Regions from separate parts of the Homo sapiens genome. Here all the other regions are linked to region 1. The links come from fine-mapping of genetic effects on gene expression. A gene starts in region 1. Each other region holds a variant in brackets. All regions are shown on one strand. Distances are from middle to middle.

Evidence for each region. PIP is the estimated chance that this variant, and not a neighbour inherited with it, causes the effect.
Region 2: its variant is fine-mapped to the expression of NET1 in whole blood (TOPMed, PIP above 0.99).
Region 3: its variant is fine-mapped to the expression of NET1 in whole blood (TOPMed, PIP above 0.99). The same link has a PIP of 0.9 or more in T cells and blood mononuclear cells.

What each region holds. Positions count from the first base shown.
Region 1 is chr10:5,408,203-5,418,991 of GRCh38, forward strand. It overlaps NET1 (neuroepithelial cell transforming 1), which reads left to right and starts at 4,355. Exons shown (of 12, transcript NM_001047160.3): 1 at 4,355-4,618. The coding sequence starts at 4,491. RefSeq lists a silencer at 4,267-4,696.
Region 2 is chr10:5,561,028-5,571,816 of GRCh38, forward strand. LOC105376381 (a long non-coding RNA gene) reads right to left here and starts at 5,854. Exons shown (of 2, transcript XR_001747274.2): 1 at 5,509-5,854; 2 at 2,134-4,278. RefSeq lists an enhancer at 1-204 and a silencer at 2,917-3,143. The variant T/C (reference allele first, on the strand shown) is at 3,828.
Region 3 is chr10:5,546,918-5,557,706 of GRCh38, forward strand. LOC105376380 (a long non-coding RNA gene) reads right to left here and starts at 5,160. Exons shown (of 4, transcript XR_930611.3): 1 at 5,113-5,160; 2 at 4,084-4,225; 3 at 3,727-3,893; 4 at 2,701-3,464. RefSeq lists enhancers at 6,584-7,107, 7,108-7,630. The variant G/C (reference allele first, on the strand shown) is at 6,463.

The DNA of each region.
Region 1 (10,789 bases):
TCTACTTTGGATTAATAGCACCTTCTCTGGCCACACATATTTCATCTCAAATTTTATTGTTCTCTAAGCTCAACAGCTAGATTTTGGAGTTTTCCATTTTCCTCATTGGAATACCTAAGAGTAAACCAATATGGTAAACAAATGATTCATAGATGATTGATTGATTGATTGACTGATTGAGGCAAAAAATGAAACAACCTCCCCCCACATCACACATACACACACAGTGATAGATTTTAAGGGATGACAAACCTGATTTCAAATATTCTGCCCTATTGTGCCTATAAGTACACTTCTGCTTGTCAGAATGACAATCAATGCAGTCCACATACTTAGCTGTTGGACTACACTCCCTTTCATTTGGCAGGAACAATTAAGTTTGACCCAATTAAAAATTACAGTCTAATAAACAGTTTTGTAAATTAATCAATAGTAGATATAGTAAATATATTTTTAAAAATTTCAGACTTTATTATAACATTCTATATATAAATTATATGTATATGCACACATACAGACATTCATTCTCCTGAATGTAATTGCTGTTAGTTCATGAGAAGCTATGAGAAGATTCAGACAAAAAAGAAAAACGTTGATGCAAAGGGCAATTCTCTAGTTATTAAGACTACTAGTTTTCTAATGGTAGGTCATTGTTTGCAAATTTGCTACATTTTTCTATGGGAGCCTACAGACCAAAGGGGAATCATTTAGCTAGTGATAGCAATGGCAAACAAAATATCACATCAAAATCATCAAATAATTTGGAAATTAATAAAGTGTTTTGATGAACACTTTGTACTCTAATATATACATATATATATATATATATATATAAAACTTGGTAAGCAGTTTTGCAAAAATAGTTTGATTTACTTAGATAATGAAAGAAAATAGGTTTTTAAATTATTGATTTACATAATAATTTACATTCATTTATTGATTGTTGAATTTATTTAATATCAACTTGCAAAATGATTGGTGTCATCACATAGGGCTGAAGGTTTTGGAAATAATCTTTGAGGAAGTTCCCCAAAAGAATATTTGTTTTGCAAATCCATGGTTGAAAAAGTTTGGGTTACACTTTGCTCTAGTCAAGTTAGTAGGAATATCTTCTCAGAGAGGGAGTTCTAGAGTCTGATTTTATATATATGAAAGCTGAAATCAAAACAATTTCCTCAAACCCTATCCCGGTGAATATTTTAAGGGAGAAGGATGATTTGTGGGGAACTGAAAGAGAGAGGATTCAGAGAACATTTGTCATGGTTTTGGGACTGTTCTATACAGTGTAAGACATAGAACATGGGGACAATGGCATTCAGACACCAGAAAGTTGATCTCTTGTAAGATCAAGAGATGTCACCAGCCTTTCCCAGGTCTTCAATGACCAACCCTCAGAGCGGTCACTTTTCTTTGCTCTTCTTCTATGGTACCCAGCCATTTTCTGATGAAAATTTGTCTTCTATTCCTTATTTCCCTAATGTCTAGCACAGATCCTGGCATATTATAGCAGGAATTTAATAAATTCTTGTGAATAATTGAACAAAATCATAAGTTCTCAAGTGAATGAAAATTGGAAACAGTTGCTCTGCATAAAACAATAGTATTCAGGTCACTGGAAAGAAGTGCCCACCCCCACCACTGGAATCCCCACATTGACATCCTGCAGTATCTATCATTTTGTGAGTAGTTATTACAAGTTACCAAAGGACTGACCACCTCTGATGACACAATCAAAACCAGTTTCAGGACCTGCAAAGCTGAGGACAGACCCTGAATTCTGAGGATCTCACCGAAGTATGTTGAAACTATTAATATGAAACGGCTGTTTCTGTGGGTAAAAAGACCAAGCGTCAGCGATTCACATGGTCCTATCTTGTGAACAAAAGTTCTCTGAAAAGGAAGTTTGGAGAAAGGAGACTTTATTCTAGTGAACAGTTTGCAAACCAGGGAGACACAGCCTTCGGAGTAAAAGAAAGGTGATTCCAGAGAATAAAGGGGAGGGTTTGGCTTCTATAGAAAAAGTTCTTGTCCAGGTTTCCAATCAGATGTGTTTATGCAAAGGAAAGATTCAGACTTGCTCAGTTCAGATTGGGTAATACAGCTGAACCCTGATTGGATAAAGCAGATGAGTTCTGATCGGTTACATCAGGTGAGCCCTGATTGGTCAATTCGGGTAAATTGTGAAAATCCCAAAGGGGTGTGAGTTTTCTGGACACAGAGTAGTTGTGACCTACTTGGGACCTGACTTGAAGAATTGCTCTTACAGGTTTATTTTTGTTCATAATCTAAACATCTGCATCCTCTGAAGCTCTGTCTTGGTGGAGACCAACTCCCCAAATATTAAGAACATTTCTGTATTCTTACACTCTAACTGCTACAAAGCAGTACTTTCTTCTTTAATTTTTGGGGAGGGATGGGGAAGGTAGAACAGAAGTGGTTCTTGACCAAGGTCAACTTATGTTCAGAGCTGGTTCCTTCCGGTGGGTTCATGGTCTCGCTGACTTCAAGAATGAAGCCATGGACCTTCATGGTGAGTGTTACAGCTCTTAAAGGTGGCACAGACCTAAAGAGTGAGCAGCAGCAAGATTTATTGTAAAGAGTGAAAGAACTAAAGCTTCCACAGTGTGGAAGGGGACCCCAGTGGGTTGCCCTGCTGGCTGGGGTGGCCAGGTTTTATTCCCTTATATGTGCCCTCCCATGTTCCATTTTTGTCCTATCAGAGTGCCCTTTTTTCAATCCTCCCTGTGATTGGCTACTTTTAGGGTCCTGCTGATTGGTGCTTTTTACAGAGCACTGATTGGTGCATTTTACAATCCTCTTGCTAGCTACAGAGCACTGATTGGTGTGTTTTACAATCCTCTTGCCAGACAGAAAAGTTCTCCAAGTCCCCACTCTACCCAGGAAGTCTAGCTGGCTTCACATCTCAATGTTACTCCCTAATTTCTTACTCTTTTTAAAACAAAAACATTTTTCCCTCATGTTATAAAGGTACTGCAAATTCAATATGTCCTTATTTTTAAAAAAATTAAATGCAAAAAATAAAAATAAAAATTTTGAATACCTAAAGTCTACCTAGAGACATTTTAATACATTGACTTTTTAATACATTTAATACATTTTAATACATTATCTTTTTTCTTTGTATAATCTCTTGTAATTCATAACTTTGAATATACTGAATATACCTCTATACTTCATGTTTTTATTTCAAATTACCAGTATACTATTACATACTTCACACTTCATTTTTGTTGGCTGAAAATATTCTTCTCAGTGGATGAGCTATAAATCATTGTTTATTTAGGTTGTTTTAAATGTTTCTATTATAAACAATGTCATTAATAGCTTCATGTTTATATAATTTTATTTTTTAGGATAAATTTCCATAAGTGGAAATATACTGGCAAAAGAGAAGTGTTTTTTTGTTTTTTTTTTTTTGGAGACGGAGTCTCGCTCTGTCACTGGGCTGGAGTGCAGTGGCACGGTCTTGGCTCAATTCAAGCTCCGACTCTCTGGTTCAACTAATTCTCCTGCCTCAGCCTCCTGAGTAGCTGGGATTACAGGCATGCGCCACTCTGCCCAGCTAAGTTTTGTATTTTAGTAGCGACAGGGTTTCACCATGTTGGCCAGGATGGTCTTGATCTCCTGATCTCGTGATCCGCCTGCCTCAGCCTCCCAAAGTGCTGGGATTACAGGCGTGAGCCACAGCGCCCGGTCAGGAGAAGCTATTTTTAAAGACTTTGACACATATAAAGCAATATTTAAAATCAAAGAAAGTGTAATTTGTTTAACAATTTTTTTTTTACTTGAAGCGGTCTTTTATTTTATATTATGTCTTTTGCTGACTTTTACAAGCAAAGGATGAAGTCACTTCATTCTGTTTTGCTAGGGAGAGACTGTGTCATGCTTATTGGAAGACATAAGGGCTCATAATTAGATTTTGCTGGTTCCCTAGAGACAGTCCCGGGAACACACTTGCATAACCTTTGGTAATTGGAAATATATCTCATATTGGCCACGTGCACAATAATTCAGTGTGAATATGGCCAATAAACATGCCTTGTTTACAGGTCATTAGTTTGGACCTCTCTTCTCCTCAAATGCTAAGAAAGATCTGGTGAATTAAAATGCTTCCAGTCCATTTGCCTTGGCCTGTAGTGAAAGTCCTAATGAACAATGAAGGAGGTACCGGGCCTTAGGGACTCAGGGATGCGCTCAGGAGTTAAGGGCAAATTTTCCTAGGTTCTTTCCTAGGCAAGTAGATCCCGGGAGCGGTGGAGGGGCGGGACTCCACGTCTCCTAGGAACCGCTGCGCGCTCACTGATTGGCTGATCGCTGCTCAGCCGCCATTTTCAAATCCCCGGATGACGGCGGTGGCGGCTGCAGTCCGCTGACAGGCGCTTTCTGCCTGGCAGAGGCTGGCGGGCATCGTGCCCGTCCCTGCCGGTCTCCCGGGCACCCGGCCACCGCCCCACCCCCTCCTCCGTGCCATGGAGCCCGAGCTGGCGGCTCAGAAGCAGCCTCGACCGCGGAGGCGAAGCCGCCGGGCCTCTGGGCTCAGCACGGAGGGAGCGACGGGGCCTTCGGCCGACACCTCCGGGTCGGAGCTGGACGGGAGGTGAGTGTGGGGGAGGGGAGGGCCGAACGGGAGGTGAGTGTAGGGGAGCGGAGGGCCGAACGGGAGGTGAGTGTTGGAGAGGCAAGGGCCGGGGGGAGGGGAGGGCTGGCCGGGAGTTGGATGTGGGGGGCGGCGAGTGGGGGTGTTGGTGAGGGCCAGGGGGAGGCGAGGGCCGCTGGGAGGTGAGTGGGGGGTGGGGGAGGTGACCGCGGGGTTGGGGGGGGGGACGGGGGCCGCTGGAAGTGAGGGTGGCACAGGCTGGAGTGACAGTGTGCCTGGCCTTGGACCGAGGTCGGTCCTGAGACCCCAAACTGCGATTTTCCCTGCCTGTGGCAAAGGGGCGGGTTTATTGAGTCTCCTCGCCTCCTGACTGTTTCTCAGGGGAGACTTAGGAAAAACCACAATGGTTTTGTTCTGCACACCCAACTGGCTGTAGGCTGGCGTTCCCAAATGCCTTTGCTCAGACCGAAACTGTCATGGTGAGCACCACGAGAATGGGCTTCCATGTCCTGAGAAAGAAAAGACTAAGGGATAAGTTGACTTCGGGATATGTTATGAGATGCCTATTAGAGAGTTCATCACAACCATTTTCGTGTTTTTTCTTTTTACTTTTTGTGGAAGTATACATTGAAATGAGAGTGTATGACTCGTGTTTGGCTCAGTGAAATTTCACAAAGCGAAGCTCAGGGGATAGCTAGTGAATTAGGAGGAAGGGAACCAAGTGAGAACAGTATCCAGGAGGCCAAATGAAGAAAGAATTTCAAGAAGAGGACGTGGCGAGCTATGTCAGATGTTATTGATAGGTCAAATAAAATGAGGATTAAGTAAAATAAGATGAGGATTAAGCTAGATGAGGAATGAAAATTAAATTTGGTAATGAGAAGAGAGTATTGATCTTAGATGGTTTCCAAGAATGGTTACAATATCGAACTTAGAGTGTTTTGCAACAGGTTGAGAAGAGAATGTGCGATTTGTTCAGAAAATAATGTGAGTGCCAACACTAGGAATATGGAAATGGAAAAATACTCTTGTTACTATTTAAGATTTATAATCTAGTGGGGAAGAAAGATAAGTAGGTTAATAATTATTATAATATGTGATAAAAGTTATTATAGTGATATACACAGAATGCCGTAGATTAAAAGGAACACTTAATCCTGACTGGAGAGAATAGGAAATGATTTCCTATTGTAATCCCTGAGTCTTTAAGGACCAGTTTAGAGAGCAGATGTAAATGGATGATTTCAGGCAGAGAAGCATGTAGAAAGGCCCTGAAGCAAATGAGTCTGATGAGTTCTGGGTATATATTCTATTTTATTACTATATTAACAGTGATATTTGTATAGAGGAGAGGAAACCAATATGGGGAGAAGGAGGAGGTAGTCATGAGAGATGATGCTAAAGAGGTAAGCGCCACATCATGAAGAGACCTTGTATGCCTTGACAGAGTTTGGGTTTTATCTTCATGGTAATGGGGAAATACTGAAAGACTTTAAATGAGCCAATGGCATGACATATTTGCATTTTAAAAGATCAGTTTGCCTTCCATGAGAAAAATAAGCAACATTTTGGAGTCATCTCACTCTTCATATTTTATGAAAACTATTCCCCAAAAATGTGCACATATACATAAACATTTCAGGAGATTTGTGGACCCAGCTGTGTATACCAAATTAAAATTTCCAAGTTTAGCTGATGGATTGGTAGGAAATCAGTCTGCAGTAGTCTAAATGAAAAAATGATTGTTCGAATCTGATAGCTGGCAATGGGATTGGTGAAGAGAAGTTTCACTGCAACAGGAAGACAAGAAAGAATAGAGAGAAATAACACAATTTTGTGGGATAGACTCTTAAGAAAGAATAAATTCCCTTGATGTGCTGTGCTGAGTTAACAAATAGAGGGAGAGGTTGAACAGACAGTAGAGGAGAAAAATGGTTGAACAAGGATCCAAGAAGGCAGAAAAGGACAGAATCCAAATTCAAGGTAGAGGATTTAGCCTAACAAGAAGCTATGGATGATATATAGTTTTGAAGAATGGGGTGTGTTGTGAGCAGGAATTTGAGGACTTTCCCACCAGGCCTCTATTTTTTGTGTGAGGTAGGAAATGATACATTGTGAGAAAAGCGTAGTAACACAGGCAGCATGAGGAGAGTGAGACACAGTTAGAAGAACCATGGAGAGAAAATGGAGAATTAAATAACATATTCCTTTTCCAGAAAAGATGTAAGATCATCTACAAGAATACGTAAAATATTACAAGATAGTATTAATTGTGAGGCAAGAAGCAACTAAGCACTGTATCAGATTCAGAAATCATAAGGAAAAAGATTTGTGTGTATGATTATGTGACTATTGAAAAACGTTCTGCAGGCAAAACTCAGTATAAACTAATTTGAAAGACAAATACGTACAGTACAATTTACCCACTTAAATTGTACTACTTAGAACATTTTCATCACCTCAAAAAGAGCATTTGTACCCTTTAGCTATTGTTCCTCTCCTACCCCTTCTGCCCTAAAACCTAATCTGTCGGTCTGTAGGAATTTCTCTGTTCTGGACATTGCATATGAATGGATTTATGTAATGTGTGTGGCCATTTTTGGTGGGCCATCCTTTGCTCTTTTTTTTTTTTCTTTTGAGACGGAGTCTCAGTCTGTCACCGGGGCTGGAGTACAGTGGCATGATCTCGGCTCACTGCAACCTCCGCCTCCCGGGTTCAAGTGATTCTCCTGCCTCAGCCTACCAAGTAGCTGGAACTACAGGCATGTGTCACCACGTGTGGCTAATTTTTTGTATTTTTAGTAAAGACAGGGTTTCACCATGTTGGCTAGGCTGGTCTTGAACTCCTGACCTTGTGATTTGCCTGCCTCGGCCTCCCAAAGTGCTGGGATTACAGGCGTGAGCCACCGCACCTGGCCCTGTTCATTTTTAAATTTCTTTTTTATTGAGTTGTTAAGAGTTCTTTATTCTGGATACAAGTCCCTTATCAGATAGATTATTTGCAAATATTTTCTCTTATTCTGTGGTTTGTCTTTTCACTTTCATGATGTGCTTCGAAGCACAAAAATGTTTTAGTTTGTAGTCCTACTTGTCTATTTTTGCTTTTGTTGCCTGTGTTTTGGTGTCACATCCAAGAAATCACTGCTAAATCCATTGTTATGAATCCTTTCCCCAGTGCTTTCTTCTGAGAATTTTATCATTTTAGCTTTTATATTTGGGTCTTTAATCCATTTTGAGTTAGTTTTTGTATATAATGTGAGATGACGGTCCAACTTAATTCTTTTTCATGTGTCTATCCAGGTACCCCAGCACCATTTTTTGAAGACTGTTCTTTCTCCCACTGAGTAGTCTTAGCACCCTTGTCAAAAATCAGTTGACCTTAAGCATGAGAGTTTATTTTTAGACTTTGACTTTTATTCTCTTGATCTATATGTAATAGCCCTATGCCATTACCATGGTGTTTTGATTACCGTTGCTTTGTATAGTAAGTTTTGAAATTGGGATATGTGAGTCCTCCTACTTTGTTCTTTTTTTCCCAAGATTGTTGTGGCTATCCTGGGTCTCCTGCAATTCTATGTGAATTTTAGAATCAGCTTAATCGATTTTTACAAAGGAGTCCACAGGGATTCTGATAGAGATTGCATTAAATCTTGTAGATCATTTTCAGGAGTATTGCCCTCTACAGAGAGTTAAGTAGTCTGATCCATGGACAAGGGATGTTTTTCCAATTATTTAGATCTTTAATTATTTTCAACAGTGTTTTGTAGTTTTCAGAGTATAGTTCTGCATGTTTTGCTAAATTTATTCCTAAGTATTTTGTTCTTTTTGATGCAGTTGTAAATGGATTCATTTCTTTTGAAATGGGAAAAGTTCCCTTTTCCCCCTCGCAGGGCGTGCACTGGAGGTGTGCTCGCTTCTTCGGTGCCCTGCTGTTCAAACCTCTAGGGGAACATATAGATAGGCAGGCTGTGGGGCTCCAACCCCATAGCCATGTCTATGGGTGAATGTTTACAGCTGAAGCCTCAGTGGGCTTGTGTTACAGGGTACTCTTAGTTTAGCCATCCGTAGGCGGCTTGTATTCATCAGCTCAGTTAGACCCCTGCCTTATTTCAAGGACAGGGGGCCTTCTGTATCCCAGGGTTCTTGCCTTGATGTACTGGAACAATCAGATGACACGTTGGCTTGGATAATGATTGCAAGCTTTTATAGAGTGGAAGTAGCTCTCAGCAGATGGGGGAGCCAGAAGGGAAATGGTTTTGCCCTGGTGTCAGGTTGCCCGATTCTCCTCCAACCTCCCTGGCCAAGCTCTGCGTCATTCTGCGAATCGATGGCCTGCCAGCTGGCCTGCCAGCGTGCTGGTGTACTCCCACGTCGATGTGTTCCTCTTGACATCCAGCCACCTGTGTGTCTGCCTGCTAGGGTCTCGGGGGGTTTTTATAGGCACAGGTGGGGGCGTGCTTTTATAGGCACAGGATGGGGGTGTGGTGAGCCAGGGTGGTCTTGGGAAATGCAACATTTGGGTAGGAAAACAGAAATGCCTATCCTCACTTAGGTCCGTGGGCCCAGGCCTGGGGATGGAGCCCTAGCAAGGGACCACGCTCTCCTCTACGCAGCACTTCCCTGCCCCGCTTTGTATCACTTTATTTTCAGTTTAATAATTTCAATTGTATAGGAATACATACAATTGATTTTTGTATATCGATCTTGGATCCTGCTACCTTGCTGAGCTCATTAGTTCTAATAGTTTTTTAGTGGTTTCTTTAGGACTTTCTGTGTACAGGGTCATGTCATCAGCAAATAAAAATAGTTTTACTTCTTTTTCCAATCTCTGGATGCCCTTTACTTTTTTCTCTTTCCTAATTGCCCTGGGTAGGGCCTCCTGTACAACGCTGAACAGAAGTGGAGAGACGGGAAATTCTTGTCTTGTTTCTGATCTTAAGGGGAAAGCATACAATCTTTCACCATTAAGTATGATGTTAGTTGTAAGCTTTGTAGATGTCCTTTATCAGGTTGAGGAAGTTCCATTCTGTTACTAGTTTTTGAGTGGTTTTTATCATGAAAGGTTTTAGGGTTTTTTTTCTTTTGTCTATTGAAATGATCATGTGGTTGTTGTTATTACTGATGTGTTACATTAATTGATTTTTTGGGATGTTAAACCAACTTTGCCTTCCTGGTATAAGTCCTGCTTGGTCATTGTGTATAGCTTTTTTAAATATATTGTTGGATCCATTTTGTTAATATTTTGTTGAATATTTTTGTATATATATTCATAAGATATTGATCTGTAGTTTTATTATCTTGTACTATGCTTGTCTGGTTTTGGTATTGGGATAATACTGGCCTCATAAAATCAGTTAAGAAGTATTCCCTACTGTTTTGTTTTTTTTGAAAGAGTTTGTGAAGAATTGGTATTCTTTCAATGTTTGGTAGAATTCAGTGTAAAGCCACCTAGGCCTAGACTTTTCTCTGTGGATAGTTTATTATTATTATTAATTCAATCTCATCTCTTGTTGTAGGTGTCTTCTGATAGTTTGTTTCTTATTAAGTCAGTTTCAGTAGGTTGTATCTCTTTAGGAATTTGTTTCATCAAAGTTATCTAATTTGTTGGTGTACCCTTCCTTGTTCATAGTATTTCTTTATAATCCTTTTCATGTAATGTCAATAGTAATGTCCCCTCTTTTATTTCTGATTCTTGTAATTTGTGTCTTCTTTCTTTTTATGATGATGGTCAATCTAGCTACAGTCTTGTCAATCTTGATCTTTCCAAAGAATGTGATTTTAGCTTCATTAATTTTCTTTGTTCTTCTATTCTTTGTTTTATTTTCACTTTAATCCTTATTGTTTCCTTCTTCCTGCTTAGTAATCTGAGTAATCTGCTCAGATTAGTCTGCATGCTTTAGGTTTAGTTGGCCCTTTTTGTTTCCAGTGTCATGATTATAGATTAAGTTACTGATTTGAGATCTTTTTCTTAATATAGGGATACAGCTATAAATTTCCCTCTGAGCATTGCTTTAGCTGCATCTCATAAATTTTGATATATTGTGTCTTCACTATCATTAATCTCAAATTCTGATTTCTTTTTGACTTCTTTGAGCCATTAGTTATTTAGGAATGAATTGTTTAATTTCCACATAATTGTGACTTTCACAAATTTTTTCTAATTTCATTACA
Region 2 (10,789 bases), 150 kb after region 1:
CAGAGTTTGCGCCTCAGGTTCCCAGAGGACTTTGCTCATGTCCCATACGGCCACTCACCCTGCATCCTATGTGTTTACAGAATTCTCCAACCCAGCATTCAGATCCAACTACATCTCCTGAGCCCCCAGCCCAGGCCCTGGCCCATGCCAGGCATGCAGGGGCTGGATGAATAAGACAGAGTCCAAGCCTGCAGGACTAAAGGCCCTGCCCAAGGGTAACACAGGCCCTCGAAGCCATGGCGTCCAGCAATAGGACAGTGTCACCCACTAGTTGGGGAGCCACAGGACCTCTGGAGGGGTGAGGGTGCCCGGAGGGTGCATGAGATGCTTCGGAGGGAAAGTGACTTCCCAGGAAGCCCTTGGACAAGGCTGGGAGCCTCCACTGCAGAGAGGGGAGGAAGAGGGTCCCAGGTGAGGAGAAATGAATGTAAAGGGCTCCGGAGCAATGGGGACAGGCGGCCACGCAGCGCTGGAGCAAGACGTGCACGGAGGAGCCAGGAGGTGACGGGAAGGGCCCTGGAGCAGGTGCCAAGGAGGCCGGACGCCCTGTGGGCCGTGTCCCTCCTGCCCTGTGCTGCGGTCCTCACACCACCAGTGACCACAGCAGGAGTAACGACGCCCAGCTTCACTGTGGGCCGGGCGCGGGACAGGCGTTGCTTTGAGCCTTTTTCTGGAATTGATCCTTTAATCCTCACAAACGCTCTGTGGGGAGATCCCTCTATTTTACAGATGAGGAAACCCAGTCTCAGAAAGGCTGAGCTGGCATCCCAAAGTTGAGGAGCCCAAGATGGCAGAGTGACTCCAAGCCCTGCCCCTCTCCTTGCGTCCCCCCACCCCCGTCCTCCTCTCCTGGTGTTACCCTCCAGGTCCCCTTCGCCTGGCATTCCCCCTACAGGTCTCCACCTCCTGGTGTCCCACTCAGGTGCACTCTCCTGGTATCCTCCCAGGTACCCCTCTCCTGGTAAAACCCAGGTCCCCCTCTCCTGGTGTCCCCCGCCATCCTCCTCTCCTGGTATACCCCCAGATCCCCCTCTCCTGGTATCTCCCCCCAGATCCCCCTCTCCTGGTGTCCCCCTCCAGACCCTCCTCTCCTGGTGCCCCTCCCGTCCACAGGCACTGCAGGCAACCCCTCCACTCCCGACCATGGCTCCAGCCCTCCCACTGGCTATACCTCCACACTGGGCCCATTGCACAGCTAGCTCTCGGGTTGGACAGACATCTGATGGCCACATCCCTGTGGAGGGAAGTGTCTCTAAAGGACACACGGTCCCTGAGGGATGTCTTGTGGTGTTCTGTTGTCAGACCACCAGGTCCCACCAGCAGCCATGCCTGTATCTCTTTATCCTCTTGGTCCTGACCCCTTTGTTCTGGTCTGAACATGGCCACTGCTCCTGGAGCCCCAGTGAGGGGAACCAGAGACCACGGCCACTGTCTCCCAGGGTTCCCAAAACCCAAACAATGGGGGCCGCCTTGGTGTGCGTGAGCCCTCCCTCCTCCTCCCTCAGAGTCTCACAAGTCCTCCACAAAGCAGCTGCTTCTGCCTCACAGAACCATTTATGGGGCCAGTTACTGGACTGCTACCTATGACCTTCCATCTCCACCCCAGAACCGAAGCACAAAACTCCCACCTCATTGCTCCCTGACCCAGACGAAAATTCCTCCCCTCTCAGCCAGAGAGGAGTGAGTGAGGGTATCTGAGGCTCTGTCTCGGTTTAGCCTCAAACAAAGGAACTGTCTCTGTGCAATTATTCAATATGAATTGTCAATGTCTATTTCCCCCGTTGTCTTCTTTTCAAACTTTACTAGGCATAGTCATAGAAACTTAAATTTCCTCCCTACCTAGCAATTCTAATAAAAAGCTTTGGTCAGTTATACACTGAAATTTTTAAGGCTGGAATGGTGGGTCATCTAGATTTGCCAAGAAACAGCATGGGGGATTATGGGGAATATTGATAAAATAAGGTTAATTAGGAATTGAAAGCTGTTGATGATAGTGTACACAGAAGCTTATCGCCATATTCTGTTTGCCATTATGAATGCGCAAAATCTTCCAGCAAAATGTGGATGAGAAATAAATAAATAAAGTAAGAATGCTGTTGGGGCGAGAGGCTCCAATGCATGGCAGCACCACCGTTTGGGGGTTCTCTCTTTATTTCATTTCTCCACGTGATCTCTGGCACCCTAGTAACCAAGATTTGGCTGGCTGTGTGTTCCTAATCCAACAAAACCAGCCAGAGCTGGAATTGAAGTCTTCGAGGTGGAGTGAACCCCAGTGAGCCCACCCCAGGGCTGCCCCCCCAGGTCCGCCTCACAGACCCACTTCTGCAGCCCCCCGTCAGGTCCCCCTCACAGACCCACTTCTGCAGCCCCCTGTCCAAGTCGCTGCCCCAGGTCTGGACACGGGCTGGAGGGTCATCGTGGTAGTTGCCTCTGAGTCAGCAAAACGCTGCTGTCACCTGTGAGGTCTGCAGTGCGTCTCAGAGGAGTGAGGTCCTGGAGGGGTCCTGCCAAGCCGAGATGCCGGAAATGGGGAGCTGCCGGGGAGGGGAGATGGGAGGTTGGAAAACGGTGTCATGGGAGTTCTCTCCTGGGCCTTTAAAGTGCCCATTCTCAGACAGAGGAGTCCAGAGGGACGTCTGGAAGCTTGGTTTGGAAGAAATTCCAGACTTCCCTGGGCAGCCAAGGCATTCTCTAGCTTTCTACGATCCAGGCCTGGCCCCTGCCTCATAAATCTCGCAGGAAGCGCTCTCAGGAAGGACGCTACTGGCCTGGGGCAGCCTCGGAGTTGAATGAAGATGGTTTGACTCTGAGAATGACTGGCCCCAGCCAGATTCCCCGTGGGGCAGCCCGTCTGTTTGGAAGTCTCCTTCCCCGCCGGGCCTGCACACCCACCCCTCCTGCCACATCAGCCCCAATATCTCTGCATTGAGCCCAGTGGGCACCTTCCCTTCCGTTGCTCAGAGAGCTTCAGAGACAGACCCTTACTCCTGCATTGATGTCCATCCAAGGGACGGGGCTCAGGCTGTCCCTTCCAGCTCACGAAATAGGTGCAGAGCCAGGCAGAGCAGCCCAAGTGTGACTCACACCCCGCCAGGTCCCGTGGGCACTTTCTCAGCAGGGTTGTGGGGGCAGCAACTCCATCCACTTTCCTCTGTCCCCTCACCCGCCCACCACTGCCCACGGCCAGAGTCACTGGAGCAGCCTCCATTCCGTCCCTGCACGGCAGTCACCATGATCTCTCCAAACCACAAGTCAGGGTGTTGCCTCTGCTTACAAGCCTTTGGTGACTGCCTGCCGTCTCAGACATGCTCAGCAGCAGTCACACTCACCGCCCCGTCATGCCTGTCTCTCACCGTCCTCCCGGCTCGCTCTCCTCTCACCAGGCTTAACGGCCACACTTCCTGGGGCACTTCTGTGACCCCAGGGCCCGGCTGGTGCCCTTCCACGGTGGTGCTTCACCACCTTGCAATTGCTGGTTTACATCCCTGATCACCCAGACTAAACGTGAAGGGCCAGGACTGTGCTGAAAGTCCTGAAACCCAGAGATGAGAGCTCAGCTCAGACCGCACGTGATGCCTCGGTGTGGACATGTGCCCAGCTGAGCGTGCAAGCCCCTAATGGCCGCTCAGCAATGCTTGTGTTTTCTCCCTTGAAACTCTGGAGCAACTGCAGCCAAACATCCTCTGCTCACTCTGTTTGTATCTCTGTCCTCTAAATCAGCCCTCTGACTTCCTCCCCGCCTGCGATGAGACTGTGAAGGAATAACAACATCCGGAGGAGATTGTGCCCCAACTTGGCTGTCGAAGGGGCCTCATCAGCCACCTTCA[T/C]GGCCCAGACGGTCAAAGGCTGACCCCACAGAGTAAGGCTGGCCCTAGGAAGAGTGGGTGCTGGGCAAGGTCCACCGTGTGCCGCAAGATCCCCCATTTAATGCAAACAACATCTCAATGAAAGATAGCATCAAAGACGGCAGTCTGAAGCCCAGGGAAGGGCGTGGACTTTGAAGTTGGGCAGGTTTGAGTTTAAGTGTTGTTTTGCCACTTCTGCTGTCTGTACCATCTTGGCAATCTGTAAAATGCATATAACACCTCGTGTGTTAGGGTGGGTCCTTGCTGCAATAACAAACAACCCCAGATCTCAGTAACTGCGTGCAATGAAACACCTGCTTCTCCCTCACACGAAGCCGAATGTGATGGTTTCTAGTTACATGGTTCTCTTGGGTGGGCTTCTCCCAGGCCGCAGCTCCACTGAGCTCCATAGTCCCCCGCTGGATCTCCTGCCCTAAAGTGGTCAACAGATGAAGAGAGACGGTGTGAGTATTGGGCAGGAGGTTTCTGGGGCAGCCTGGAGGTGGTGTCCTCCAGCATCACTCCCAGGGGCCCCGGCTGCAAGCAGGACATGCTGAAGCTGCAGTGTTCTGGGAAAGACATAGCCCCGCTTCTGCCACACCTGCCTGGCAGAATTGTCATGTTTTAGGGGACGGCTCGTAAAATGGCTTAACAGGCTCTTGGCCCAGGGACTGCTAGAATAGTGAGTTTCCTTCTTCTCTTCGCCTTTGGTGATGTTGGGGCTGGAAGATTTCTAGAATGAGCTGTGTCTGTAAAGAAGCCTCAAGTCTTTTTTTTTAAGCACCCGCGGATGAGGCTTTTTGAGGCACTAGCCGGGCATCAGAGGCCCAGGGAAGTTCAAGGGTTCACCCTGATTGGCCTGAACATCTGGGAAGTTCTGGGCTGAGCACGATGACAAATGTGCCTCCCACCCCCACCATCCACACTCATCTACCCACACACACGGGTTCTGTCCTGCCCCGAAGGAAGATGGTTTCAGGATGACTGGATTTCTGAATTTCCTCCGTGCAGATTAAGGAGGCTTAAGAAGCCCGCCTGTTGGGAGGAAGCCTCCGACCGGAGCTGCTCTGGCTGGGAAGGGGTGGCTCAGGGTGGTGCCTGCTGTTCAGCCAGGCTCCCCGAGGCAGGTGGGATGAGACACCTGGGTGGGGCGGGCAGAAGCTCAGAGTCTGCACGGTGCCAGGGAGGATGATGAGGGCGAGGATGGATGAGCCCACAGGGGTGCATACTCCACCTCCCGAAAACACAAGGAGCTCAGCGGCTGCACACACAGGCAGCACAGAAAAGAACAATGGGGCAACTCGAGGGCGTTCTGAGGGTACCTCTTGCCTACATCACCTGGTTTTAGTCATCTCCCACGTGCCTGCCTTCAGGCTGATGGACTTCTGTGAGATCCCTGGGTTGCTGGCTTTGAAAGCCACTGGGTACCGACCACCCACATCTTGGCAGGGGAGCTCCCATTGCTAACATTGCTTCATAAAGTGCCACTGGAGAACAGCTGTTGAGTGGTGACCAGCCCCCAAGGAGTCAACCGCCTTTCCCACCCCCAACTCACCAGAGTCCCATGAGGACACCCCACACTCAAACCCAATCTGGACAAAACTGTCAAGGACCCTAACCCAGGCGTGCCCCCCACCTTCTCATCCAGCTCCCTTTGACTCACTTGGGTGGTCGCAGCCGCCGGCTGTGATTTCTGGCCCATGCCTAGTTATTTTAAAGGCCAAATTTTCACAGCCATGCAACAGGCCCTTATCTCCAGGCCTTCAGATGCTCCCATGTGGCTTGTTTGATTCTCCTTCATATCAGCCCTCTCTCAAGACTCAAATTTCATTTCAAACCAAATTTCTCTTTTCTCCATTCTGTTGACTGGGCATCACCATGGCAACCCCCACCCCCATTGCAAACATCCTCTGAGGAACGGGCCCACATGCAGGGGCTTGAACCTGTCATCGCTGTGAGTCAAGGTGAGATGAGCTCACTTCCCTTGATCAGCCATGAGTACTGAGTGCAGCTTCAATTTGTGTCTTTGTCACTAGGACAACTCTGTGACTAGTGTGCTTCGGTTAGGGCAAAAAGTCCTTCTCCAGGAGAAAGAAGTAAGTAAGTTACCTGCCTTTACAGACAGTTGGTCCAATGGATAAAACAGGGGCTGCCAGAGAACCCTACAGAACAAAAAACCTATCATGCAAGATTATTACATATCTATCTTTTTTTCTCAGAAAAAGGCTGGGTGCTGTGGCTCACACCATAATCCCAGCACTTTGGGAGGCCGAGATGGGTGGATCACCTGAGGTCAGGAGTTCGAGACCAGCCTGGCCAACGTGGTGAAACCCTGTCTCCACTAAAAATGCAAAAATTAGCTGGGTATGATGGCATGTGCCTGTAATCCCAGCTACTCAGGAGGCTGAAGCAGAATTGTTTGAACCAGGGAGACGGAGGTTGCAGTGGGCCTAGAATGCGCCACTCTACTCCAGCCTGGGTGACACAGCCAGACCCGTCTCAAACAAACAAACAAACAAACGAACAAAAACCTACTAAATACCACCTATAACAAAAATGAATTTGAAGATTTCTCACAAACTCATGGTCACAAGCTTCTTTGGTAGTTGATTTTGTTGAAACAAAAGCTGACCATAAATCCACAGAAGACAATTATGAAGGAAAGCCACCCCACAAGCTTTGCTACATCCAGTGAAAAACACGTGCTGCACACATGAGTCTCCAGGATATGAACAAAATGTTTACGAGCCAAAAATTATGAAGAAGGTATTGATCTCAATACATTTTATTAGCATCCAAATAGCCATCCACAAATATTTGCTCAGTGATAAGGAGGAATGCTACCTTGTTCAACATCTATATTCTAGAAGTTAATCATTTTCAAAGAATCAGCTCATTAACTAATAAATAACAATGTTGTCTTCCACCATAGTTTAAGGCAATACCCCTTCTTTTCCTATCCATCTGCATGGTTTGTTTTGTTTTATGATGTGAATGTTATATATTTTATCAATATATGGACTTCTTAATGAGCCTGAAGACAAAAACCACATCCTTGCTGTGGCTATAGGAGGCGATATCTCTCCGAAGGTCACATGGGATCATTTCTGATGAATACACCAGGTATAAGGAGGTGTGTCTCTCAGACCTACAACAATCTAAGGAGGAATGCCCTAAACCTTGGTTCAAGGGATGATTTCATGCTTGTATACATACACAAAAGTCCATCAAACTGTATAGATTTGTGCACTTTATTATATCTTGGCCTTATTTTTAAAAACAGAATAAAATTATCAGTGAACCTCAGAGAGGGTCTCAGTTTCTCTTGCTTTTGACCACAAAAGTGTCAAATTCCTCCCAAATTATGGAGAGAAGCTAGAAGGGAGAACAACTAGGGGCTCAGGCAACACGGTTGTGAACTGTAGTTAACGTTTAAGGGCCGGGAGATCTGTATCTAAGCAAATCATCAGTAAATGCCAGCTTATCTCAGACTTTGTAAACTAATTTGTTTTATGCTTCCTGAATTCTCATTTATTCTCCTTCATTCTCAGTATTAGACAAAGTACAGTCAATGCTTGTCATTCTCAGTACTTCTGTTCTCTAAAGTCACCAAGAACAGTGAATTAGCAAATACAGTCAGCTCTCCGAATCCATGGATTCCAAAACCTCAGATTCAACCAACCCTGGATTGATAATGTAATTAGGCCTATGATGGTTACATCTGTACTAAACATGTCTATTTTACTTCTTGCCATTATTCCCTAAACAATATAGTATAACAACTATTTACATGGTATTTACATTGTATTAGGTGTTATAAGTAATCTAGAAATGATTTAAAGTATACAGGAGGGTGTGCATAGATTATATGCAAACACTATGCCATTTTATATCAGGGCCTTGCATATCTTTGGATTCTCGTATCCGCAGATGGTCCTGGAACAAATCCCCCAAGGATACCAAGAGACAATTATGCTGAACCATTGTTCCCAGGAGAAATATGGGGTATGTTCCTACCAGCCCTGACCATAGCATTTTTGTCAACCAATCCATATATAACTTTGTTTTATGTATGTTTCTGTTTAAAGGCACCTTATTTAATATAAAGTGTTGATTCATTGGTGGGTAAGTAGTTGGTTGGTTAGCGGGTGGTTTGTTGGCTGACTGGTTGGTGGGTAAGTGGTTTTTGGTTGGTTGGTTAGTTGGTGGTTGGTTGGTGCTTGACTGGTTGGTTGGTGATTGGCTAATTGGTTGGTTGGTGGTTGATTAGTTGGTTGGTTGGTAGGTGGGTGAGTGGTTGGTTGGTTGGTTGGTAGGTGGGTGAGTGGTTGGTTGGTTTGTTGGTAGGTAGGTGAGTGCTTGGTTGGCTGGTTGGTGGTTGATTGCTTGGATGGTTAGTGGTTTATAGGCAGTTGGTGATTTGTTGGTTGGCTGGTGGGTGGGTGAGTGAATGAGTGTGTGGTTGGTGTGTGGTTGGTTCGTTGATTGGTTGTTGGCTGGTTGAATGAATTAATAAATTTTGCTCTCAAAAGCTCATAGTCCCCCCCAAATCCCTTCTCCATCTGTCATAAAGTCTGATATTTCTAAAGTTAAGATCCTCGATTAAAAAGCATCATGGAAATGTAAATATTTAAACTGGATCACAGAACTATCTTTCCTGGGAGGTGAGAACTCACTAATGAGTTAATGAATGGCACAGGATTCATTTCTCCAGTCATTTTTCCCTTATGATTCCATGACACCCGTGGAAAGAATGGGCACAAGGTAGGTATGTGTCTATGGAAAAGAGGGAAGAAGTAAGAAAACATCTGGAGTAAGACTTTCCTCTCTAGTCCTAGAAAAAACCATTGTGATGCCAGGAAAAAAAATTATCTTCTCTCAAAAGAGTGTGTTTACCTTTAGACAACAGCTATCTGTTGTAAAGGCTCATCAGTCCCTCAGTGTGTCACTGTGATCACAAATCTCCAGGAAAGGAAGATTTTGCAGGCAAAGTTTCTGGGAAACATTTCACAAGAGAACGGCAGCCCAGCAAAATGTGCATTTGGGGAGCCTGGCTTGGGACATGCATCTTACAGCCTGGTTTGCTGCCAGGATCCCCCAGGACACTCTCAAAAAAACAGATCTCTAGGCTCCCCCGAAACCTTTGGAAATATTCTTGAGGGACCAAACAAGAAGCAGATACTTCCGAGAAGCCCACCAGGTGAATCTGACGATGAGCCCAGGTGTGGAATCTCAGGCAAGGCCTGGTGGAAAATCCGTGGTCTGCGAGGAGAGCTGCCTGGGAACCCGGCACGACGGGGAGACACTTGAAGGAGGGGCACATGCGCCAGAGGTGAAGCTTTGCCCTCTCCAGCACAGAGTGGGCCGTGAGCTGTCCGCCACAAAGGCGGAGAGATGAGGTAAGAGGGAGGCTGCATTGTTTTGATGTCCAGGCACAGACTTGGCATCCACCAGCCCAGGCAGCGCCACAGCCAGGCTGGCTCTGGAGGAAAGGGTGGGCCATGGCTTTGAAGCCAGGCAGGCACACTTCCTCCAGGGCCCGGGTCTGCATGCAGGGGCACGAGACTCAGAAGCCAGCTCGCCCATCTGTTTCCGTTACATGCAGATGGGGCAGAGGGCGGAGGGCGCAGGGCTGGATGGGGACCAGACTGTGAAGCCTTCGGGGACTGCGTCCAGCTGCATCACAGGTCTCATCTGGCCCAAGGAGGCCGGTGGGGCGGTGTCAGGGAAGCCCAGTGTCCAGGGCTTTGAGTGCTAATTCTTCTTCCTGGACATCGGTCCCCCTCCTCACTAGCTGGAGGCAGGGTCCCTGCCTTGCTTTTGCAGGCACCCAGTGCCTGTCGTCAAGCCTGGCCTACAATAAGTATGTGGTAAACATTCATTAAGTTGAACTGAATGCTCCTTTCAGTGAGAAGATGAGCTCTTCCATCTCTCTCATTAGACAGAGGTCCCCATCAAGGGGTTCACATCAACTGGTTGTTAACAAAAAGAGGGACCCTGGCCCAGCCAGCACCTGCACACAGGAAGCATTCAGTGATGCTGGCTTTGTTGATTTGCAATGACCATCTGCAAAACTCTCTTCCCTTTATCCGGGTGTGGGTTTGGTTCCTGTGTATCCAGATGAACGTAATTGCCATCATCGATACCAGATACCCAACCATGACCCCTTCTTTTCCCCTTTTTTCAACTTCTACTCTAAGTGTAAACAAGTTAAATGATTTGGGGTTGTTTTGCCCTCATCTGATTCAAAAAGAGGTGATGAAGCATCTCGGTTCTACCAGCTGTGTGATCACAGAAAAATTGCTCAACCTCTCTGAGTGCCAGTTTTCTCAACTGCTAAATGGATTTACAAAACCCACCTCGCAGAGTAATTAGAAGGATTCGTGTACCTAATGCACTGGAACAGAGGCGGTGGTTGATATCTAGAAACTAGTATTATAATATTCTCCATCCTGGGACAGTCTAGCCCTAGGGACTGGATCCCAAGATCATGGTGTCCCAGAGAACTTTGACCTTCACAGCTGCAAACAGATGGAGGGACAGGGCTCAGAGGTTCAGCAGGTCCCTTCTGTTCATAGAACCCATTGCTTTGTAAACAAAGTCCTATCTATTCATAGCGACAGAGTTTGAACCTCCTTGCATTTTTGTTCATGCATTTACACAAATGTGTGTTTTATGCCTTGTTTACAAGTGTGAGTGGTGTGCTTACTGGGTGGGGACCCGCACACTCCAGGCTTGGACACTCAAACAAAGAGCTTCCCAGGCCCAGCGCCAGGCCCCTACAGGAGCCCAGGTCCTTATCCTCGGGGACCCTGCGTTCCTGATCACAGCCTTTGTTCTCTGGACCTGAGATCAAAGGTCCAGAGGAGGTAGTTTGCTGGCAGCCAAAACTCGTTGGATGGTGGAGTCAGACGGAAGGGTTCTTGGATCAAGGTTCATCCCAT
Region 3 (10,789 bases), 140 kb after region 1:
GTGGGTCAGCGCCTGCTCAGCCAGAGCTGAGTCTTCTCCTGCACTTCAGCACCAGCCCTGCCCACACAAAGTCCTGGGCATCGCACTGCACCAGGAGCTCTGACATGAACAATGCCCAGTGATATTTCACAATCACCCCGCCCTTTTATGTTTTGTCTGTCCTTCTGGGCAGGTGCGGGCTGGGCACTGCCCTGCCTGCTTTTAACAGATAAAGAAATGAGCCCAAAGGAAGAAAAGCTCATAAATGTTCACAACGTCACCTGCTGAGTCAAGGCACAAACATCTGACATTCTCCCCTCTCTGGCTGCCAAAGGAGAGAACTGGGCCTGGCTGGTTAGTTCCACCCCATGAGAGCCCCCCAGAAATGCCCACCTAAGAGACTGGTTCCCCTGCCCATGAGCCTGCCCCCACCTAGCCCAGCCACCTAAGAACACACAGGCTTTCTCCAGCAGCCAGTGTGTCTGGGAGGAGGAGACCTTTTCTTTTTGGCCCACTTGCTGGTTTCTCTCAGCACAGCTGGGCTCAGTGACACTGGATTTTGGGCATTACAAGCACGAGTCTTAGAAGCAAAGGCATAATTGCCCCCCACAGGCATTGTTCCATCTGCTGGAAGAATGAATCAATAATATTGTATTAACCCCAGAAGCAGGGCTGCCATGTTCAGTCTGACAGGTTGCACACTGCACAACTGCAGGGGGGCACCAGCCACATAGTGACCTGCCTGGAAGAATTTATAATTTAATGAGGACAAACAAATCTTAGCATAGATCTCACTGTACTAGAGACAAAAGGGTTAGAATCAAGCAGACTTTTCCACAGCTAGCACTAGGGATGACAGTAAATGACAACAGGCTGGGTACGAGGGGCTTGGTCCCAAGCCCAGCTCAGACAGCAACTAACTGACCTTTGGCAAGAGCCTCGGTCACATCACTTCCAACAAGAAAAAGCACAGGAAAGCCCTGCGGGAGCGTCTAACTTAAGTACTAGGTAGCATCATTTTAAAAGTGAAACTCTGGCTGGACTAACAGCCCTTAGCCGTTCCTTCTGGCTGGGCCGTGGTGCAATTTTTTGATATAACAGGTGGGATCACCAGGGGCAGAGGACTCAGAGATGGGGGAGAGCAGGAAGAGTGAGCTGGGTGAGCCCTGCCCAAACACTCCAAGAACACGGAAGCAAACACACGCCCTTCGACCACTTCGCTTATTTTTTTCACCCCCTCTCAGGCCGGAACAAAGAGCCTTTTTGTGAGTTTAATGGTGTCTGACTTACTCAGCAAACTTTTCTGTCTCCTTTGCTGTGAGGAAAAAAACAAAGCTCTCTGTCCGGTTTGTTAGGTTCCTTTGAAGAGCTTGCTGCTTGGGTTTAGGCAAACAGGAACCCAGCTGGCACCGCCCTGGTCAGGGCGCTTTCTGGGAGACTTTCCCCAGGCCTCGTCTGGATCCGGGCTGAAGAGGGGGTGGAGAGAGGTGGGCACAGAACAAAGGGTGAGGGCACCTAGCAACCTTCCAGGACAGGTGTTACAGCTGATGCTCCTGAGCAAGCTCTACCTAAAGGAGTTCATTGAATCCTCACCACCCCTCTGAGGGAAAGGACCATGTCCCCACTGCCTGGATCAGGAAACGCAGACTGGCCGAGGTCAAGGACTTTGCCAGCGGTCACACAGACAGGGAGTCCACCCCCAACACCTTTACTCTTTCCACTCACTGAGTCCACCCCCACCCCAGAGATCCCCCAGCCTTCGCTCATCCTTTCCTCATCCTCCCAGAACCCAGGATCTGCAGAGCAGGAAGTTCAATAGCCAGGCCTGATGTCGTTAGTCAGTCCTGGGGACAGGCATCCTTTCCTGTCCCCTGTGAGTTCAAATTCCAACTCAAGCAACATACAAACGCCAAACTCAGCTCACACCTCCGGCTCTGAGCTGCAGGGTCCACTTGTGGGGAAGGGGAGACAGCCCAGCTCCCTCCCTCCCTCTCCCTTATCCACACACATACACACACTTGCACACACACAAAGACACACATGCACATGCATGCACACACACACTCGTGCACACACACACGCCTCCTGGCATGCCACAGGGAGATAACGCACACAGCCACCTCCCAGTGACCACAGAGCTCTATCTCAGGGTGACGTCACCTCATACACAGCTCCCAGTTCACTCTAAGTGATTCATCGAGGGCGTAAACTCTGAGGGCGATGGAGGCATCAGGGTACAGAGATGAAGTCAGTTTAGTGCCATTTCCTATCCATGGGCTCCCCAGAAGTAAGAGAGAAAGGAAGGAAGGCCTTTTAAAAGTCCACATTGGAGCCAGTGACTTGTGGCTTTCCCTTGCAGAAAAGAAACTTTGGCAACAGCTAGTAGTCATCTTCTCCTGAGCCCGCCAATCTCACAGCCCCCTCCACACACACACACACACACACACACACACACACACACACACACACAGAGCTGCAGCTGCAGCACTGCCTAGCTGGCCCCCAAACACTGTAGCGCTGAACAGACCAAAGATGGAGACACTAACTGTGATCATCATAACCAGTGTGCACTGAACACTCAGCACGTGCCAGGCTATGCTAAGCCCTTTCCATGTGAAAAAGAAATTTCCACTTGATTCCCACGACAACTCAACAAGGTAGGAACTGTTAAAAGAAAACTTTAGACGAATTAAATTTAAATTAATCTAGCAATCAATTGAGTTTCATTTGAAATGAATTGAGTTTAATTAAGCAAAGGATTCATGAAGTGGGCAGCCCTCAGACCAGAAGAGGTTCCAAGGGCTGAGCTCCACTCCACAGTGTGGGCAGGGAGTGTTTATAGACAGAAAATGGAAGTGAGCTGCAGAGACAGCTCATTGGTCACAGCTTGGTTTGCCGTGTTTGAACATGGACTACTCAGCAGCCACCTGCGATTTATAGAAGCTCAGCTGCTGTGATTGGCTAAGACTCGGCTATTTCTTACAAAAGTACACTCCTAAGCTAGGCCTGCAGTTCATTTGCTGCTAAGGTCGCAGTTGGACTCAAAGTGCAGAGGCATCCTCAGACCAAATTTGGTTTAATTTAACCCTACCATTATTCCCATTTTTCAGATGAGGAAAGTAAGGCTCAGAGCTCGGGTAACGCCTCCAAACTCCCACATCTAGTGAGTGGCAGAAGAGCCGTGGCCAAAACCTGCGCTTTCTGGCCGGAAAGCCCAAGCTCTTCCCCGCTCCAGCGTGGAGCTTCTCTGCCATTTGAACCACCTGTGCTCAGATGACTCTCAGCCCTATCCTGCTCTGCTTGGCCGGGCCCAGAGCCCATCCCATTCCATCTCCTCCATCCCCGCTTCCTTCCATGTTGTCCCCTGCAGCTTCTTGTCTGCACCACACTGTGGAGTCCAGCAAGGTGACTCAGGGAAGGGACAGGAGATGCAGCTACCTCCTGGTTCCTGGAAGCTTCTGACATCCCAGGTGGCCTCTGAAGATCTGCAGAATAGGGTGGGTGTGGGAGCCCAGGTGGAGAGAGGCTGTGGTCAGCTGCATAGTATCACCCCCAAAGATGCCCTCCTCCTGATCCCTGGAGCTTGGGAACACGTGACCTCCCTTTGTGGGGGTGATTGGGTTATGAACCTGGATCTGGAGAGATGACCCTGGATTATTGGGTGCACCAGGAGTCATCCCAGAAGCGCCTTATAAGAGGCAGGCAGGACTCAGCGCTGATGGTAAGAGTCAGTGGAGAAAGAAGTACCTTATAAGAGGCAGGCAGGACTCAGCGCTGATGGTAGGAGTCAGTGGAGAAAGAAGCAATGCCAGGAAGGGGCCTCAAGAAGCCAAAGAGGCAGAAAGATTCTCCCCTGAAGGGTCCGGAAGGAACCAGCCCTTCCAGCACCTTGGTTTGGACTTCCGACCTGCAGGCTGCGGGAGCGACATTTGCGTGGTTTAAACCACTGTGTTTGTGGCAATTTGTTGCAGCCACCCCAGGAAACTAGTCCAGAGAGCACACCAGAACCTCGGGGACTTATTGGCGACTATGCTAGGCGGCTGGGGCGGCCTCAGCAAAATGCCCCAGGCTGCCGGCTTGACCAACAGAGACAGATGCACTCACAGTTACCAGCACTGGCAGGGCTGCTTCCTCCAAGGCCTCTGCCCTCAGCTTGCAGATGGCCGCCCCTTTGCTGCCTCCTTGCACGGCCAGTCCTCCAAGCCACCTGCCCCTGGAGTCACCCTCTGGGAGTCCTAATGTCTTCCTGTAAGGACACCCATCAGACTGGCTCAGGGCCCACTCACATGACCTCATTTTAACTTAATTACCTCGGCAAAGACCCTCTTTCCAAACACAGTCACAAACCAGGTGGAACTGGTTTGGGCTTGCCTGGAGAACTGGTTGGGGCAGGCCAGGTGAGAGGTGAAGGAGGGCAGGAGGGTCCCTGAGAGATGGCTCAGCCTAGGAGCAGAAGGACCAGGTCTGAGTGAATCTGTCAGGCCTGGGGTGACTCACCACATTTCTCTTCCAGGCCAGACCTCCGCCGCCGGCCTCATCTCTTAGGCCTAGTGGGGCCTCCAGAAGACAGAACCCCACAGCCTCATCTCTTAGGCCTAGTGGGGTCCCCAGAAGACAGGGGCTGACAGGTGGTCCTGCCTTACAGCAGAGGGGACCAGAAGGCCGCTGTGCAAGGGGCTCAGTGATTTTAACCTAAGCCCGTGTGCTTCACTGCTGGGAATCTGTAAATGACGGCTGGGGGGGGTCTGTGCAGGGACATTAGCAACAGAGACAGGGGCCAAGGAGATGTGGGTACATGCACCTGTCAGGGTCACCCAGGACTCCAGAGCCTGAAGGTCCCCAGCACCACCCAGGCTCTCTAAGGTGCACCTGGCCCAGCTCACATTCCCAAGCCAGCCAAGTGACTCAGAACGCCACCCCCCACCACAGCCTCCCCTCGTTGACCACAGCCTCCCCTCGTTGACCACAGCCTCCTGTCTCCACATGACATCGAAACTGTCTCTTCTCTCCCGGACAGGAGGGGAGGAATCTGCACAGACAAGGGCCAGGGTTCAGACAGAAGACAACGCCCACACCAGCCACTTGGATCCGGAAGATTCCTGTACACACTTGCATGGGTGTAAAATTACTAACCTGGTGGCTAAAGAGGTAAACAGGAGCTCTGAGGTGTCACCCCTGAGGCTGAGGAGGCAAAGGGAAAAGGTTGGGATTCTTCAAACGTGGAAACTTGGAGGTAGGGGCTGTGGGCCTGGGCCCCTAACCTTGAAGGAAGGGGTTCCAGCTGTAAAGTGTCTGAAGTGGGTGCAAGGAAGTTGCATTTGCAAGTGCTGGAGAAGCTGCAAAAAGAGTCAGCCTCTGCCACTGAAAGAAGCCGCTGCTGCGGGGGCGGGGGGTGCCCACAGGGAAGAAACAAACTCTAGGGTGTGGGTTTCTGCTCAGGCTGGGCAAGTATCTTTATGAAAGGGACCTGCATAAAGCGTCCATAAAACCTGCCCCTTTGCATCCTCTAAGCCAGCAGGTTCCCCATGCCTCACCCCTCTTTCCTGAACTCCTCTTCACCCCAATCCCCATTCCTAGCACCCCCTAAGGACAGGCTGTGCCCTGACAACCGTCCATCTCTACCCAGCTGAGACCTCTGTCCAGGGCGATGGTTGCAGGACCATGCAGACACGGAAGTTTGCTGAGATCCCACTCCAACTGCCTGCTCTCAGATTCTGAGTATTTCTCTAGCCCCCTCATAAAAACACAGGTCACTTTCACACTGAAAGTAAAAGATCCCTCCTTAAGTCCTTCATCCTGCATCTCCACCACCCGCCAGGCCCTGCCCTGGCAAAAAGTCTCACAGCCTTTTAAGGTGACCCGAGGACCCAACTCTGTCTCTTTCTCTCCTCTCTGTGCTTCAGCTTGTTTCCTGGCCACCAGCAAGGTCCCTCTTTGGTCTGGGAGGTAGGTGTCTGCAGGACACTGGGAGGATTTAAATACAATGATCAGTGTGGGGCCCCGAGAGGGCCTGAGACAGGATTTCCACTGATTGCCAACGTTCAATACGGACCCCTAGGAGACAAGCAGGAACTCCTGTTCTTATCCACACCTCTGCAGAACGGCGGAGACCACTCAGCCATGAGAGTGGCCTCTACCATTTCAGAGAGTAGCCGAGGAGGGAGCCATCCTCAGCCACTGCTGTGTGGTCGGTGGGCCTGGTTTCCACACGTCACAGAGCCTGGCACCAGACCGGCTAAGCATGGGCCTTCGTGGCACAGGCCCAGGAAGCTTCGAGTCCCAAGATTTAATTTTGTTTTCTGGGCCTTTTGAAAGAAAACGTTGTCATCAATGATTGCTCTCTAGCACGTGTCTGAAGAGCGGCCACCAAAAGGAGCCACTGCTGCAGGGGTGTCCACGCGCGCAGGGAAAGAACGGACTCCAGGGGCTGGGTTTGCTCTTGGAGAATGAGGTCGTCAAAACCTCACTTCGTGGGGAAGTCTG[G/C]AAAAGACAGTTTCCTGCTTTGTTCATCGTGGGCAGCAGGAAACGGTGCAGCCTCCAGTGAGAATGATTCCAGGAGGGTGTAATGGGGCGAGGTATGAAGGGGTAGGCAGTGTGGGGAACCACCCACCCGGGCCATGTAGCTGGCACCGTGGTAATTTAAGAGACCTGGAGAGATAGGGGAGGGATGGTCAGGGGACTTGGAAAAGGAGGAAAGAGGTGGGGAGGAGCCCAGCGGGAAGGAGATGCCTCATCACACCCTCCTCCCTCCCAGCCCCACAGGCTCCCACTGGCTGAGCCAGCCAGAGCCAGAGAGCACAAGGTCCCCCACGATGGCCCCCGCCGGTCAGTGTCCTGGGGGAGGAGGGGGTGCACCTGGAGGGGCAACTGGAAGGCACCCAGGACCCCCCAGAACCCCTTGGGCAGCCCCAGCTTGAACTGCAGGGAATCTGCCATTCAAGATGGCTGCTAGAAAATGGCGATTCTACCTCCCAGGTGACTCCAAGGGCTCTTACCCAGAGTCCTGAATAGCCACAGCCCAGCCCAGGAGTCCTAAAAGGAATTCTAGAGTGACCCGGATGGTTGTAAGGGCCTGAGAATGATCTGTGCCGTTCGGCAGAGACCCAAGTGCTCTCGGAGTGACCCAAACCTCAGGGCTGAGAACAGCTCGAGGTTCACCTGGACTTACCCCTGCTCCCCCACAGATCCTCGGTGCACCCTGGGATTTCCACAGCCACGTGGATTTTAAGCCAAATCCAGGATGATCCCATGACACACAGGTCTCAGCTCCCCATGGGGCATTTCTCTCCAAGACCACCTTCCTCCCCAGCTCACCGTCCACGTCTACAGAGCCATGCACCTCCGTGGCAGAGCTGAGTGCACGTGGCACAGAGTCAGGGCTGACATTGAGCAGGGCACCCTTGGTCTCCCCCAAGACCCATCAGAGTGTGCCTGGCACTGCCTTTCAATAAAAAGCCCAGGGTCTGAGCAGGGTGGGGCGTCTCCCCTCCCCCAGCCAGGATGAAGGTCAGAGCTGAATTTGCTCAGTTCAACACCAAAAACAGTCCTGAAGGAAAATGTGTTGAGCTTGGCTGTAAGCCAGGTCGTTAAACATGGATTCTGATCACAGATCGTTTCTGCTAATTAAACAAATATTTTTGCAGAGCTGTCTCGGTTTCCGCTGTTGCCGTTGGCCTAAGTTGCTGGCAAACCATTGGAGCCATGCCCCGAAAGTCAGCTCAGATCAGAGGAGAACACACAGAACTTTTGAAGGAACAGCTAAGACAGGTCTTCCAAACAGAGAGCTCTGTTCAGAGAGAAGGAACAGGCAAGAAAACACCGACACCTCCAGCCCTTACAGTCACCAAGCTGTACTTTCAGATTCCTGCTGACATACACACACACACACACACACACACACACACACACACACTCTCTCTCTCTCTCTCAATCCCTCCCTCTCTCAGAATGCATAGTCCTTCTCCCTGCCTCCATCTCTAAAGCTACACCTGCACACACAAATAAGCATTCTAGCAGTGCAATCACTATTCCAAGTTTGAAGACTCGTGTGTGTGTGTGTGTGTGTGTGTGTGTTTTCCTGCTGAAGTGGAGAGAAAAGGGCCAGACAGGATGGGCCCTGGGTCCCCATGTGACGTACCCCAGCAGGGGTCCTTTGCTCCTTCAAAAATGCAATTATCACAAACTTCCCTCGCCCTGGACCGCGGTTCCAGAGAAACGCCCATGCACATAATGTTTTGGTACAAGTTCAGGGTGTTCGTGAACTTTCTGAAGCCCGCCAAGAGCGCACTGCGAGTTCCAAGTTTAGAATACCAGTCCTGGGGAGTCAGGAAGCGTTTGCAGCCTCTGAACTGTCCGCAGAACTGTCAAGCACCCAAGGCTCGTCCTCTCTCAGCAGCTCCGAAGCCCCCTGGACTGCAAGCACTCAGCACCCAGAGCCTTCCCTGCCATGCCCCAGCCCTGAGGTGTCCTTTCACACTCCGGACCCCCCGGCCTTTCTCAGAAAACGCTCCGTGCTGCGCTGTGTTGTCCCCACTTGTTGCACAAGAGTAGTAGCGACAGCAATGCTGACCAGGCCTGGTTGCACACAGCCCCCTGCCCCAGGTCCAGGGCTGCACCAACACCCCATGCCCGTGGACACATCGGCAATCTTGAACCCCAGACATCTTGTCTATCACTTGAGACAAGGGGATTGCATCAGCAGCTTCACACTCTTTTCCTTTCTTTATGTTTTAGATTTGGAGTCTCTGTCACAGGCACAGGCTGTGGTGAGCCATGATTGTGCCATTGCACGCTGAACAGGCTGGAGTACAGTGGCATGATCATGGCTCACCACAGCCTTGAACTCCTGAGCTTAAGTCATGCTCCTGCCTCTCAGCCTCCTGAGTAGCCGGGACTACAGGCCTGCACCACCACACCAGGCTAATTTTTAGATTTTTTGTAGCAACAGGGTCTCGCTATGTTGCCCATGCTGGTCTCAAACTCCTGGGCTCAAGCAATCCTCCCACCTTGGCCTCCCGAAGTGCTGGGATTACAGGTGTGAGTCACGGCACCTGGCAACACTTTTTTTTAGCCAAGAGCCCTTCCGATGGACTCTCATGAGTTAAGCCAGTCTATAAAGCACAGCCAAGCAGCCAAGCTGCAGTTGAAGAGGGGATGGGAGAAGACCTCCCACCGACCCCCAGGTCTCTGAGAAGCACAGCTGGAAGACTCTGGCCCTCTAGCCCACAGCCTCCTAAATGCCCTGGGCTCAGCCATGTTGTGACACTGGGATTTCTCAGGGACCTCAGACCTACACATCTCCCTCCCAGCCAACCCACCACCCCCATGCCATGCCCAAAACCAACACTCTCCTTGACGAGTTATGCAATCCTTCTTTCCAGATCATTCTGTGGTATGTAATCTAACAAACTAGCCATGCTTAAGGGTTCGGAGGGAGTGACGGGGTTAATGAGCTGGTTCTACCCCTCAAGGAGGATTTTGCACTTGTAATGGGGATCCCCTTACTCCAAGGGAGAACTGCTCAAATATATTTTTTGCATGTTTTTAAATTTCAAAAGTAAGGTGTGATTTTGATAAGCAACGACTATACTATAGAAATACCTTGTTTAGGAGATGAAAATGTCCCCTGCCTCCCCCTCCAAATTCAAGCCTTTTAGGTAAAGCAATACTTGAATGACAGGCACGGTGGCATTTGTGTGCAAGGAGAAGACTGGGTACCACCAAGTCCCGGGGTGGACGCCGACTCCTTCCATGGTTCTGCCTGTGCCGACGCTGCCAGGAATGCTCCCCAGGGGCTCAGGAGTGAAGCTTCGTGGACTCTATGCCTGGCTTCCTGAGCAGGTACAATTCCGAGCACCTCGGGCTGCTCCTCTCTGGCTCCTGCCACCTTCCTGAGACAAAGGGTCAACCCTCAGCTGACCTCGCAAGGGTGGGAACAAAACCATAAAAGGATAAGACATCTCCTGATTAGAAAGTGATGACTGGGCTCGTGAATGCCAGACCATGTGGGGCTGAGTGACAAGCAAGAGCTTCCTCATCACCAGGGGTCAGGGGTCTCTTGGCCATGGGCAGCAGGCACTCATTCCTTCCACACTGTTCTAGGGGAGAAGAAAATAAAAACCAACGCTCCAAGGAGCTTTTGATTTATTAATAGTTGGGCTGGCAAGAAATAAGGACTTAGAGATTCAAAACTTCGATGGCTTCGAGTCCAGGCCACGCGGCTGTGTGGTCTCTGCTGGAACATCCTTGGTGGCGGAAGCTCTGCGCCTGGTGCTGGAGGAGGCCTGAGGATCAGGAGATCTTCCTCCAGGGAGCCCACTCCTCCACCCCTGTGGCATGCAGCACTCACCCCACAGGCTTCTGCCTGGCTGCCCCCATATGGAAGCTTCCAGGGCAAGCCCAGAGGTTCCCTGCTCCCAGCCCTTGGTCCTGCCACTGCACCCAATAAAACATCCCCATCTCACATGAAAACGGCCCTCTGAGGAACCCGGCGTCTTTCCGGAGGGAGGTTCCTCTCTAACACCGGGGCTTCCCTTGGGGTCTGCTCACCCAGGCTTCTATGTCCTCGGCGTGTCCTGTTTTCTGAGCCCAGGGAATCTGGGGGCACGTCAGATCTCAGTGTTGGGGAGCTGCCGCCAAACAATACATCAAAGCCGGTTTCTTTTCAAAGTAGAGGCTGTCTTATTATAATTCAGGGACAAATTCTAACTAAGTTTCCAGAAGGAGGCCCCGGTGTGGAGGGGCCTGTCTCTCCCTGAGCGCCTGCGTCTCCTGGCTCCACCAGGCCTCTCACCAAATGGTGTTTTGCAGC